4 separate regions of the Homo sapiens genome follow, and regions 2, 3 and 4 are each reported to be linked to region 1. Evidence: microRNA targets listed by miRTarBase, many of them from high-throughput screens and not tested one by one. Region 1 holds a microRNA gene; each other region holds the end of a gene's coding sequence.

Region 1 (3,175 bases):
TGCCTTTTAATTATTTGTAACTGACCTAGAGCTTTGCTTACTGGTAGGCCAAATGCATTTTGTGTTAAGGGAAAATACAGAGCATGGAGTCTTTTATCACAACATCCCTATTATACAAACGTTAGCAGATGTAGCAAGAGATGAATAGGCATGATTGAAAACAGTTGTATATTGACCTGACACTAATACCACAATAGGCAGGCAACAGAACAGGAGTGATATGCTTTCAGTCGTAATTGATAATGCAAACAAATGAATCCTCAGTCTCATGATAATATTCTTTCCAGCAGCAACACAGAAATGCCTACTGATAAAGCATTCTTCTAGGGTTTTATTCTGTGGGAGAAATTTGCTTCTTTCAAAAGAATTAAACAATGCAAAATTCAGATACATCACTGTTTCATATTCTGTGCCTATTTGTCACTTTAAAATTTACTTCCAGTTGATCTCTAGTCCCTGTTTCTCTCAAAAAAAATCTGTTGAAGTTTTCATGTAAATAGTTTGTCTAAAAGGTTAAACAATTATTGGCTTTAAAATAATTCTAAGTGACTGAAATGTAAGAATGTGTAAAAATTTGGGATACATATTTCACTAACATTTCGAGAGTAATTGCCTTGACTTGAATAGACCATTATCACCTTCAAAGTAGCATTCCAAATTATTGTGGGTTGTCCCTCCTACAGATAATTACTCTATAACCATATTAGATGCAACTTAAATGTGTGAAATAATGACTTTCTATTCTGGTTTAGATACATCCAAGGTGACTTTTGTTTTAATTGATGGTAGAAAATTATTGAAAATGGCTCTAAAAATAAATTCAGTAGAGTTCATAATAATTTTAAAATAAGCATTAATGATAAAACAGTCTTAGAAAATAAGACTATGAAAAGAATCCCTCACCCATCTACCCATAAAGAGATGTTAGATGTTAGATGTTATTTAAAATAATAGGAAATGAACGGTTTTGTAGCATACATAGATTGTATTTACCTTTCACTGTATTCATGAACTCTTTGTGCCATAAACTAAGAAAAATGTATTGAGCTGGTTTCTTCACTTATAATTTGTTCAGCATTTTCTAAATAAGATTGTTCTTAGGAAGTTATACTAATTTTAAAACCTTATTTTAGAATAAAATATAGTAAATATATAATGTAAATATAAATGATATCATCAATGCCAATTTGAGGAAATCTAAGGTAATTCTGTTTAATTTCTGTATAAGCTATATACATAATGCTTGCTTACTATAAGCGTAACAATATTTAAATTATAAGATATTGTTTGGATTTTATACCACAAAGTACTTTGAATAACAAATTGTCCCTGTCTTTAACAGTGAGATAATTCCATCTCTGGAACTAGCCCAATATCGGCCATGTTTTTGCTTAATGAAACCGATCCTTTTCTCTCATACAATGTGATGTGGAGGTTTGCCAAACTCTTTGTTGGAAGAATCATGCTTCTTATTTGTCTTCTTTTGTAGTCTTTTGAAATGGCATAAAAATGCATAAAATATATGACTAAAGGTACTGTTGTTTCTGTCTCCCATCCCCTTCAGATACTTACAGATACTGTAAAGTGAGTAGAATTCTGAGTTTTGAGGTTGCTTCAGTGAACATTCAACGCTGTCGGTGAGTTTGGAATTAAAATCAAAACCATCGACCGTTGATTGTACCCTATGGCTAACCATCATCTACTCCATGGTGCTCAGAATTCGCTGAAGACAGGAAACCAAAGGTGGACACACCAGGACTTTCTCTTCCCTGTGCAGAGATTATTTTTTAAAAGGTCACAATCAACATTCATTGCTGTCGGTGGGTTGAACTGTGTGGACAAGCTCACTGAACAATGAATGCAACTGTGGCCCCGCTTTTTGCTGTCACAATCAACAGATATTCCATCTTTGAAAGATGTGTTCAAAATAGTACTATTGTTCTTTAAGTTTTCCAATTCGTCAGCATCTTCTGGTTTATTTATTCAATTTATATCATGTGATGAGATTTCAATGAAAAAGACTCTGGTTTAAACAAGAATAATGCTTCTCTATCTTTTGTATGCTATAAACAGAGCATGTTTTAGAAAAGGCAAAACTATTTTGTCCATCAAACGTACAGTATCATCATCTAGGTTAGCTCACCTTCCTACTGTTGTAGTGTGAGTGAAAAAAAGACATAAAGTAGGACCTCAGCACCCATGCCATTGACAATAACACACTTACAAATATGTGTTCTTTACAACTTTTGTTAGATGTTCTGGTCAAAGTGGGATAGAAACACCAGATAATTTTAGCTTTCTGCTTCTCTGGGTGAGGATTTGCTCATATAATTCTGCCTCTTGCTATGTAACATGCTAAATACGAAGAAAATAATATATACATAACTATATAACTATCAGAACACTCATGACAGTCATATAGTAGATTGATTTTCCCAATTCAATTTCCACTTTAAAACTTTACCCACTTTCTATGTGCATGAACTGCGTGGTTAGACTTACAGTCATGGCCCATTAATTGCCTCATGTTTACTCATCTGACTTTGCAAGTAAAAGCCTATGCATATCATGGTTTTTCTTAAGTGGTTTGCCTCTGCATTTTTATATAGGACATCTGTCATTAAATTTGATCACAGCAGTTTTAAGTTTACCATTTGTAATGATAATAATTATATAGCAAAATAAAATGCTTTCTCAAGTGTCTATGTTTGGAGTACCTGGATGGCTTCAATGTTCATTTTTTTTTAATGGTCAAATAAATTATCCTTTCTTTTCCTTGATCTTTTAAATCCCATTTGCCTTTAACTCCCATTACAGAAACCCATTGCTGGGACCCGGCTCTTGACCTCATCATAACCTTAAAATATTTTACCACATTCGATATCTAATATCCCACTCTGTCTATCACTTCTTACCATTCTAGTTTCTCATTCTCTTATCTCCAAGGCAACTGTCCTTTCAATATCAGTGTTGCTGAAAAATAAAATCACATCATCATATGGACACATTAATACACATACTCAGGGGCCTCCAAGTGCCTCAGTCCCTCAACTCTGACCCAGCATTTCTTCTACTCCACTCCCTCATGTTTAGCCTAAATGTTTACCTCTTTCCTCAACTGCTCCTTTCCACGATTCCACTCTCAACAGATGAACTGACTTCTGTTTTTCATTGA
Region 2 (3,175 bases), not on the chromosome of region 1:
GGGAAAGCCTTCACTCAGAACTCAGACCTTACTAAGCATGCACGAACTCACAGTGGAGAGAGGCCCTATGAATGTAAGGAATGTGGAAAGGCCTTTGCCAGATCCTCTCGCCTTAGTGAACATACAAGAACTCACACTGGAGAGAAGCCTTTTGAATGTGTCAAATGTGGGAAAGCCTTTGCTATTTCTTCAAATCTTAGTGGACATTTGAGAATTCACACTGGAGAGAAGCCCTTTGAGTGCCTGGAATGTGGTAAAGCATTTACGCATTCCTCCAGTCTTAATAATCACATGCGGACCCACAGCGCCAAAAAACCATTCACGTGTATGGAATGTGGCAAAGCTTTTAAGTTTCCCACGTGTGTTAACCTTCACATGCGGATCCACACTGGAGAAAAACCCTACAAATGTAAACAGTGTGGGAAATCCTTCAGTTACTCCAATTCGTTTCAGTTACATGAACGAACTCACACTGGAGAGAAACCCTATGAATGTAAGGAGTGCGGGAAAGCCTTCAGTTCTTCCAGTTCCTTTCGAAATCATGAAAGAAGGCATGCGGATGAGAGACTGTCAGCATAAGGAATGTGGGAAAACCTAAAGGTGTCCCTGTTCTCTCTGAAGACATGAAAACTCACTGGGGAGAAACCCTATGAATGTAAAAATGTGGAAGCAACTTTGTATCTCAGGTCTTAATGAACACATATGAATTCACAGTGGAGAAGACCCTGCATCAGGGAATGTGGAAATGACTTTGCTGAATTCTCAAGCCTTACCAAACACATCAGAAATCTCACTGGAGAGAAACTGTATGAATGTAGAGAATCTGGGAATACCTTTCTGAATCCCACAAACCTTAATGTGTGTATGTGAACTCACATTGGAGAGAAACCCTGCAATTTAAATGGTATGGTCTGGATGATGCCCCACTCCATATTTGTAAGCCCTAAGTCCTAGTTCCTTACACTATAACTGTATTTGGACATAGGGTTTTCAAACAGGTGAGTAACTTCAAATGAGGTTGTTGGGTTCGATCCCTAATCTGACATCACTGGTGTCCCTATAAGGGAAACTGAAGGAAGGATACACATGGAGAAGACTGTGTGGATCCACCAGAAGATGGCCATCTACAAGCCAAGGACAGAGACCTGGAACAGATGCTTTCATTATGGCCTCCAGAGGAAACCAACCCTGTCTCCACCTTGATATTGCACTTCCAGGCTCCAGAACTGTGAGGCAATAAATTTCTCTTGGTTAAATCATTCAGTCTGTTATTTTGTACAGCAACCCTAGGAAACTAATACTGTGAGGAACTTGGGAAAAGCTTTAGATCAAGCTTGTCCAACCCGCAGGCCAGGATGGCTTTGAATGCAGACCAACACAAATTTTTAAGCTTTCTTCAAACATAATAAAATTTTTTTGTGATTATTTTTTCCGTTCATTAGCTATCATTAGTGTTAGTGTAAACACAAAAGCAATCACAGGAGAGACGTTCTATGAATGTAGGACATGTGAAGAAGTCTGTAAGTGCTCATCAGATCTTAATACTCACTTCCAACTCTTGTGGTGATAGGCCCTGTGAAAATCAAAGACCATCAAGAAGAGAAAGTTTCTTTTACTATGAAAGTCATAAATGTGACTTCACCCAACATTTAGTGACTTAGAGTGGACTGAGGCTCCATTATTAGTAATGTGGAGAGATTTCATTAAATGTTTATACCTTACATGAGAAATAAAAATTCACAGTGTAGAGAACACTTCTGCTGTAAGGCACGTGGGAAAGCTTTTACTAATTCCACGAGGCTCATTTTACATATCTAAAATTAGACTGCAAGTGAGCCAAGACCCCTACACTCCATCCTGGGTGACAAAGCAAGACTCTGTCTCAAAAAAAATAAAATAAAATTAGACTGCAAATGTCCTGGGAATGTAGGGGAATGTATGGCAACCTTTAAATATCTCACATGCCATAATGTTAACATGAAATCTCACATTGGAGGAAGAACCTGTGTATCCCAGGGATATGGTGTCACCTTATTTCATTGCTCAAGCCTTAATATCTTTGTGAGAATTCACACTGGGGTAAAACCCTGTGATTATAAAAAGGATGCAGGAAGTACTTCATTTGCTTCTCATATCTTACTGTATCACAGTTCATAGCCATGTGAATGTAAGAAATATGGGAAAGCTGTCAGAATCTCTTCACAACCCAGCAGGAAGTAACTTGCAATGAGACCACACAGTCTGTGAAACATGGAAAGCCCTTTGCTGTTATCTCAGGGATTGCTTAAGTAAGGTTTTGCAGTAGAGAGAAATCCTATTAGTGTAAGAGGTTTTGGAGAGTGGTAGTTCAGCTAAATAATGTTGACTTCTCAGATTGGAAAACTCTGACCAATTGAAAATGTTTTATTACTCTTTTAAAATATCCGTGTTCACCTGGTGCAGTGGCTCAGAGCTGTAATCTCAGCACTTTGAGAGGCTGAGGTGAGTGGATTGCTTGAGCTCAGGAGTTCAAGACCAGCCTGGGTAACCTGGTGAAACCCCGCCTCTACAAAAAAGACAAAACTTAGCTGGGCATGGTGGCTTATGCCTATAGTCCCTGCTACCCAGGAGGCTGAGGCAGGAGAATCATTTTAGCCCAGAAGGAGGTTGCAGTGAGCTGAGATTGTGCCACTGCACTCTAGCCTGGGTGACAGAGTCAGACGCTGTCTCAAAACAAAAAATCCATGTTTCAGAGCAGTTTTAGGTTCACAGCAAAATAGTGTGGAAGGTTCAAAGACATCCTATATTCCTGCGGCCACTACATATGCATAGCTTCCACCATCATCAACATACTCCACCAGAGTAATACATTTGTTAGAATTCATGAACCTGCATTGCCACTTCATTATCACCCAAAGTCCACAGATCATCGGTCCTCCCACTATTCCTCCCTCCCTCTCCCCAGCCCGACAACCACTCATCTTTTTACTGTCTCCATAGTTTCGCCTTTTTCAGAATGTCATAGAGTTGGAATTGTGCAGTACGTAACTTTTCAGATTGGCCCAAAGTGATAACTTCACATCCTTCTTTTCCAGTTCAAATGTTGCCTTTTTCAAAACCACTCATGGCCTGCCCCGCCCTCATCCTGTGCCCATAAAAACCGCAGGCTCCACTAACAGAGTAGAAGAGGGTGGGG
Region 3 (3,175 bases), not on the chromosome of region 1:
GAATTTTATCCTGAGCCATTTCATGATATGACCTGCAGCCTGCACAAGTCAGTAACTATCTTGTCTGAACTGTTTATCTTTCAGGATAGCAGTGGCAGCTCCGAGTTACAAGAAATTATGAGAAGACGACAGGAAAAAATCAGTGCTGCCGCTAGTGATTCAGGAGTGGAATCTTTTGATGAAGGAAGCAGTCACTAATTTGTTTGTTTGTATTTAAACTCCATTGTTTTTGGCATTATTCCAACATGCTTTGTTTTAAGAAGCCTTGAAGGGAATGTCAGATTCATTTTTCTTGATGTAATTTATCACCATAAAAAAAAACCCATGCAAACCTGAGTGAGCACAGGATTTGCTTCTAGGCCCATTATTTTTATTAAAACTGAAAAAATTTAAACTGAATTTTTTGACCTTGGAAAATATTTTTCTTACTTTACCAAGGTGAAGTTTCCTTAATTAGACTAATTATTTTATCCCCATCCCAGGGTATAAACAGGAATTGTTTTGATAGTGGTGGAGTTATTCACTGCAACAAAGCAACAATGTTGTCCATGATTCAAAATCTAAGCAGTTTCGATTTTGCCTGTGAATATGGTGTCTGTCATTCAGGGCATAGCTCACTGTAGGCTAGCCTCTGCTTACTTAAGTCTCTTCTCTGACATACTCAATGGAAGAATATTTAGATTTATTTAAAGTTCTTAATGCCAACAGTTTAAAAAAAAATTAAAACATTTGAATGAACTGTAAAGTACAGCCATACCTTGGACATGCAAATATAAATCTATGGAGCATTCTCAAGAGAGTTTGTCATGGCTCTGTTGATTGCAACTCCTTGTATAGCTTGTATTTTGATTTAGTTTATATTCTGCTTATTATGTATACTGTGTTCTTATATATGAGAAAGCACAAATGCGAAAGAGGTCATGTCTTCTCAAAATCTAGCAAAGGAAGTAGTCTGCATTGGTGTGCATTACAGTATTTTGCTTAATGAAAGCCTCAGTTCTGAATGTTGATATGAGTAGTTAAAAGGAAGTGGGGCCATTTTATGTGTTTATCTGTGTCAAGTATTTCTGGTAATAAGAAGCACTTAATTTACACATATTTTAATCCTGTGAAAGATTCCACATAGAGAAAAGAAAGATACCTAACCTTCAACAAATGTTATTTTTGGAAACACAATTTTTGTCATTAAATGTTATATTATTTCACATATATAAAACAGATGTTATGTAAGAATGTTGTATATTTTAACATAAATCATTTAGAGAAATTATCTAGATTCATTAATTTTCATAGTGCCTTTTTCACATGAGTCAGCTGGAAAGTCTGCAATAAACAGTATTTGCTGTCTGTTAATAAATGGTTTCTGTCTCATTAGCAAAAAGGATCTGTGCTAGATCGGCTGAGGATTCGAGTTGAATGCAATGGGAAAAAGTAGAGATCCACATTTTAAAAAAACTATATATTATTCTATTTCTGAGTGGGTAGAGAAACTCTAGAATACTTTTTTCGGTTGTTTTTCTTCTTTTCGCCTCTTGTTTCATCATCTTTTCCTTCTACCATCTAGTCATATTTGGTAATGGTAATGGAACTAATTTACACTGCGCTTACGATTGCTAAATGCTTCCATATAAATGCTTTCCTGGATATTTACAACAACTCTATATGAATTATTACAGATGAGGAGATTTAGCTTCCTAGAAGCTAATTTTCCCCAGATCCTGAAGGATGTGGGAGTTTCTCATCTTCTATCTCTCGGTCTCTCTATAACACTGCCCTTTGGATAAAGTGGAACAAACATGAGCATGATAAAGGTGAATTAGTTTAGATCTTTTACATTTCATAAGGACTGATACATATGTATAATTTAGCCTTTATTGAAAGGGATAAGATGAAAGAAAATAAGATCCAAAAGTTAAGATAACCTGCGTGTAAAATAGCAGACGGATATGAAAAGAATTGGTGTAATTTACATCTTTATGCTATAAGATGCCAAAGGAATGTATCACAGAGGTAGTAATTGCAGAAAGCAGTCACATCAGCTAAGGATGTGGGGACAAAGAGAAGAGGTTCCTGGAATTTAGAATCTTGAGGGAGCAGCACCACAGAATTTGGATCCAGACATCTGAGGGGTTTGGTCACTGGTATCTGAGGATTTGAGGAAAGACCCCACAAAGCTAACAGGGGGACACAGCCTAATCAGTGTTTTTGCCTCAGGTATTCAGAAAAGATTTCAGGAATTGAACAACAGGTCAGAAAATCCATGGCTCTGGGACTTAGACTTTGGAGAAGAGCATGGCAGGTAGCTGGTGCTTGAATCTCTAAGAGGGCACAATGAGGATGCCTCTGGGAGCCTAGGGAATAGAAAACTGGTAAATTGAGCCAACTACTGCTGCTGGGAATCATTTGCTACTTACTGAGTGAAGAACCACTACTGGGGTTGTGTTGGTAGCAACAGAAAGTAAAACAGGAGGGAGAAGCCCCTTGTTCCCTCTCTAGCCTTCTATCTCCCTGTAGCACATGCTTTCGGCACAGTCTATTGAGCATGCACCTGACAAAGCCCCAAATCTCAAAGATGAGAATTAAGGGATGGATTTGAAACTGAGAGAATAACTCATAACCCATTCCAATCTCTAGTACTTAGCCTCTACACTTGCTCTTCTGTACATATCTGAAATTTCATACAACAATAATTTTTTAAATGTGGGCCAGGAGCAGTGGCTCATGCCTATAATCCCAGTACTTTGGGAGGCCAAGATGGGAGAATTGCTTGAGCCCAGGAGTTCAAGACCAGCCTGGGCAACAAAGTGACACCTCATCTCTACAAAAAAAAGTAGCCAGGTGTGGTGGCATTCACACACAGTCTGTGTTACTTTGGAGTCCAAGGTGAAAGTGTCGCTTGAGCCAGGAGTTCAAGGTTGCAGTGAGCCATGAGTGCACCACTGAACACCAGCCTGGGTGATGGAGTGAGATCCTATCTCTAAAAAAATTGATTAAAAAAATTTAAAAGATAGAAAAAGCTTATGATTTTACCTAACAAGGTGCAATCATCTTTCTCTGTTATTTTAGTAGTATTTAATGTAGAGTACTTAATGTAAAGAATTGTTAAACAGGCAAAAAGAGAACACTTAAGACATCACAGAGGTGGTTATAATAGGAAGCAGCTCCTATCTAGGGC
Region 4 (3,175 bases), not on the chromosome of region 1:
CAAAGCAAGACCCTGTCTCCAAAAATATGTGTATCTTTTTAAATATGTACTCTTGAGTTCAGGGCAATGGGAGGGAGACTGGACTCCTGTGTCCCAGCAATTACTGTTCTAGGTTAGATGGTAGAAGTTCTTTCTGCCTAAAAACCTGCCTAGAGTCAAAAACAATATTGACTCATGGGGCCCCTGAACACTCCTAATACCAAATTTTTCATTTTTGCTGATTACGTTAATAGGCCATATTTACCTGTTAAGGTTCTTTCAAATAACCTGAGAATCATGTCATATGATTCAGAAGACCTGGAATGAGGTCCCAGCTCACTTAATGGTGAGTGACTTTCATGAAACTCAATTCTATAATATGGAGACAGCACTATAGCACTAGTCAGGGTTCTCTGTGTGTTCAAACACCTACGTAAATAGCACATCAGTGCTACTGTAGTCCAAGACACCTCTGGTCAGATGCCTACAATGAAAGGGGCTGGTGATATTTCTGTCGCAGGGCCACAAATGAGAGAATGGTACACACTGGCATTTAGAAAAGTTATACCCTCCCTCCCCGGCCTTTTTGTGTGTGTGTGTGTGTGTGTGTGTGTGTGTGTGTGTGTGTGTGTGCGCGCGCGCGCGCGCGCTGTGGGGGGAGACAGTCTATCACCCAGGCTGGAACTCAGTGGTGCAATGATACCTCACTGTAGCCTCCAACTCCTGGGCTTAAGTGATCCTCCCATCTTCGCCTCCCAAGTAGGTGGGAATACAGGTGTTTGCCACCACACCCAGCTAATTTTTGTATTTTTAAAATTTTTTGTAGAGACAGGGTCTCAAACTCCTGTCTTCCAGTAATCCTCGGCCCCAAAGTGTTGGAATGACAGGGGTGAGCTACCACACGTGGCCAGTTACCCACCTTTAACCGATTTCTCTCCCTTCTAGGACTTCTCATCTTATTTATCAGATGGACTACATTTGTCTCCAAAGGGGAATGAATTTTTGTTCTCGCATCTCTGGCCTTTGATAGAGAAAAAGGTCTCTTCTCTACCTTTGCTGCTTCCTTACTGGCGGGATGTAGCAGAAGCAAAACCTGAATTAAGTCTGCTGGGAGATGGAGACCATTAGCCAATCACAGGAGACCCAAATCTGCTTGTTATCTACAGAACTCAAAGTTGTCAATACGTAGAGGTACGCTTTTTTCCTCAGGCTTAAACCTTTGCCACTGATATTAATAATAAAAGTATTAGATGATTTTTCAGGGAAGTTTTATACTTAGGTCCATTGTGTTTCGACAGTATTTATTAATGCAGATATCAGTGCTACAGCTATAAAATATACCCTGAGCAGCTTGTTAATTCTATAAATGACAAAGACTATGTTTTTAAAAAGTCACAATTTTATAAAAATGGTTTTTCTTACATTCTTTTGAGAACTGTTTCACTCATACATACACCCACACACCCCACTCAACCTTGTATCAAATTCCAAAAGTGTAACTAAAGTATAAGAATATCATGACTAGTTAAAAGATAGCAAATACCATAAGGTACAAGTTCAAGTATTAGTATAACAAGTATCTGAGTAACAAATGTCCTTGGAAATGGGGGGTAGGAGGAGATATGATTAGTCACAGGTTTGGTTAACTGCCCTCAAAATTTACAAGTTAAAATGTTTTGGCTGGTGAGCACATTTCAGTTCTTAGGGGAAAAAAAGCTTTTAATGGCAATTTATAGAAATCAGAATCCAGGCTAATGATTTTTATCCTTCACACAGTAAATGCAGCCCATCCAGAATCCTGGAGCAATAAAGTAAGAAGTAATTCAAATATCTGCTTGTGGGTCAATAAAAAGGGTTTCTGAAGTATCAAGTCTTGTGGGGACAGCCCCCAACCCTAAGGGCAGGTAGTATTCTATCTCCTGGCTGGCTCATCACATTCAAAACAACCTGTTTTTTTTGTTGTTGTTGTTGTTAAGAAATATCTCACCCTCTTATTCAATAGTGTTTGAAAACAGGCAATCTTTGTATTTTAAATATTCTAGGTTTGTAGATAGTGAATTTTTTTTTTTTTTTTTTTTTTTTGAGGCAGAGTCTCACTCTGTCACCCAGGCTGGAGTGTAGTGGCGCAACCTCAGCCTCTCCAAGTGCTGGGATTACAGGCATGAGCCACCACTCCCAGCCAATAGTGAATTTTCTAAGAGCATGTATCCCTATCAGTAACAGGGATACATGAAGATACTTATAAAATACAGAAAAACTGCCCAGCAAATCAGGGCCCTAAACAGTTGGTAGATTCCATAAATTCAACTGGCTACCATGTATAGCCCTCACTGTAAGGTAGGTGGTTAGGTTTCTAGAGAGCATTAGTCTTAGAATTATGAAGAGCCATATTAACCCAAATGATTTCTAAATTTAGATATATATTTTCCCTGCTACATAAAAACTCTGGGTAATAACTAGAAATAGACCCACAATTTAGAGACAATGTATACTAGATTTATCTCCTTTGTTTTTAGTTGAAGGCAAAAAAAAAAAAAAAAAAAAAAAACTATTCCAGTTGTCATCACAAATAAATGCCAAATGCCTCATATTCAGCGGTTCATTACAGTGTATAAAAAAAAACTGATCATTTCCCTAGTCAGTGCTGTTATCAATATAAAAGATTAATTTACAAAAACGTAAATATTCATAACCCAATCCAGCTGTATTTTCTGCTTTTGCACCACAGGTCAAAAGATATTTTAAAAACTAAAACCTGAAAGCCTCAAAATAAGCTAGATTCACCTTCACCTTACCTTTTCAAAAGGAGAAGGGCCAAACCACACAAGAACTGTTTACCTGCAGGAAGTTCAAACACATGACCAGCATCTGCTAAGTCACTTCCCAGTCTTCACAAAATACAAGCTGTGATTGATTTGTAGGTCAAATCTATAAAAATATTTTGCACACTTAAGTCAGAAGAGCTGAGAACTAAATTAGCACTCTGTTTCTTTGCTGTCAACACGATTCTGACGCTGCAGTTTAAAGGAGGCAGCCTTTTCACTTCTGGTGACCGGATGGTCCGTGAGATCCTCAAATGACTTGGCAGCTGTGCTGCTATTTGGGAAGGGGTCCTTCTCAAACCCATCCTCGTCCATATGTGAGTCTGTGCTGGGGTCTTCCTGGATGGTGTCCATTCTCTGGTGGTCCAGTTTTG

Evidence for each region. The annotated mature microRNA hsa-miR-181a-5p reads AACAUUCAACGCUGUCGGUGAGU and lies in region 1 at 1,621-1,643, shown strand. An mRNA with a match to its seed (bases 2 to 7 or 8) in the 3' UTR can be bound and repressed. Matches are read on the target gene's strand: a 7mer-m8 pairs with bases 2 to 8, a 7mer-A1 pairs with bases 2 to 7 and ends in A, and an 8mer does both.
Region 2: the mRNA of ZNF266 is a reported target of hsa-miR-181a-5p. Seed matches in the 3' UTR shown: 8mer at 651-658 and 8mer at 810-817.
Region 3: miRTarBase lists EPS8 as a target of hsa-miR-181a-5p. Seed matches in the 3' UTR shown: 7mer-m8 at 1,001-1,007.
Region 4: miRTarBase lists ADAM17 as a target of hsa-miR-181a-5p. Seed matches in the 3' UTR shown: 7mer-m8 at 1,913-1,919 and 7mer-A1 at 1,399-1,405.

The regions. Positions count from the first base shown.
Region 1 is chr1:198,857,576-198,860,750 of GRCh38, reverse strand. It overlaps MIR181A1 (microRNA 181a-1), which reads left to right and starts at 1,598; the gene lies at 1,598-1,707. The region is part of intron 2 of MIR181A1HG (MIR181A1 host gene); the gene reads left to right. MIR181B1 (microRNA 181b-1) reads left to right here and starts at 1,769; the gene lies at 1,769-1,878.
Region 2 is chr19:9,410,679-9,413,853 of GRCh38, reverse strand. ZNF266 (zinc finger protein 266) reads left to right here. Exons shown (of 11, transcript NM_001370374.1): 11 at 1-1,425. The coding sequence ends at 579. Among named protein-coding and RNA genes, the nearest start is that of ZNF266, 23 kb to the left of the region's middle.
Region 3 is chr12:15,618,340-15,621,514 of GRCh38, reverse strand. It overlaps EPS8 (EGFR pathway substrate 8, signaling adaptor), which reads left to right. Exons shown (of 21, transcript NM_004447.6): 21 at 85-1,381. The coding sequence ends at 198. Among named protein-coding and RNA genes, the nearest start is that of EPS8, 170 kb to the left of the region's middle.
Region 4 is chr2:9,487,223-9,490,397 of GRCh38, forward strand. It overlaps ADAM17 (ADAM metallopeptidase domain 17), which reads right to left. Exons shown (of 19, transcript NM_003183.6): 19 at 1,264-3,175. The coding sequence ends at 2,955. IAH1 (isoamyl acetate hydrolyzing esterase 1 (putative)) reads left to right here. Exons shown (of 6, transcript NM_001039613.3): 6 at 925-2,520. The coding sequence ends at 1,107. Among named protein-coding and RNA genes, the nearest start is that of IAH1, 14 kb to the left of the region's middle.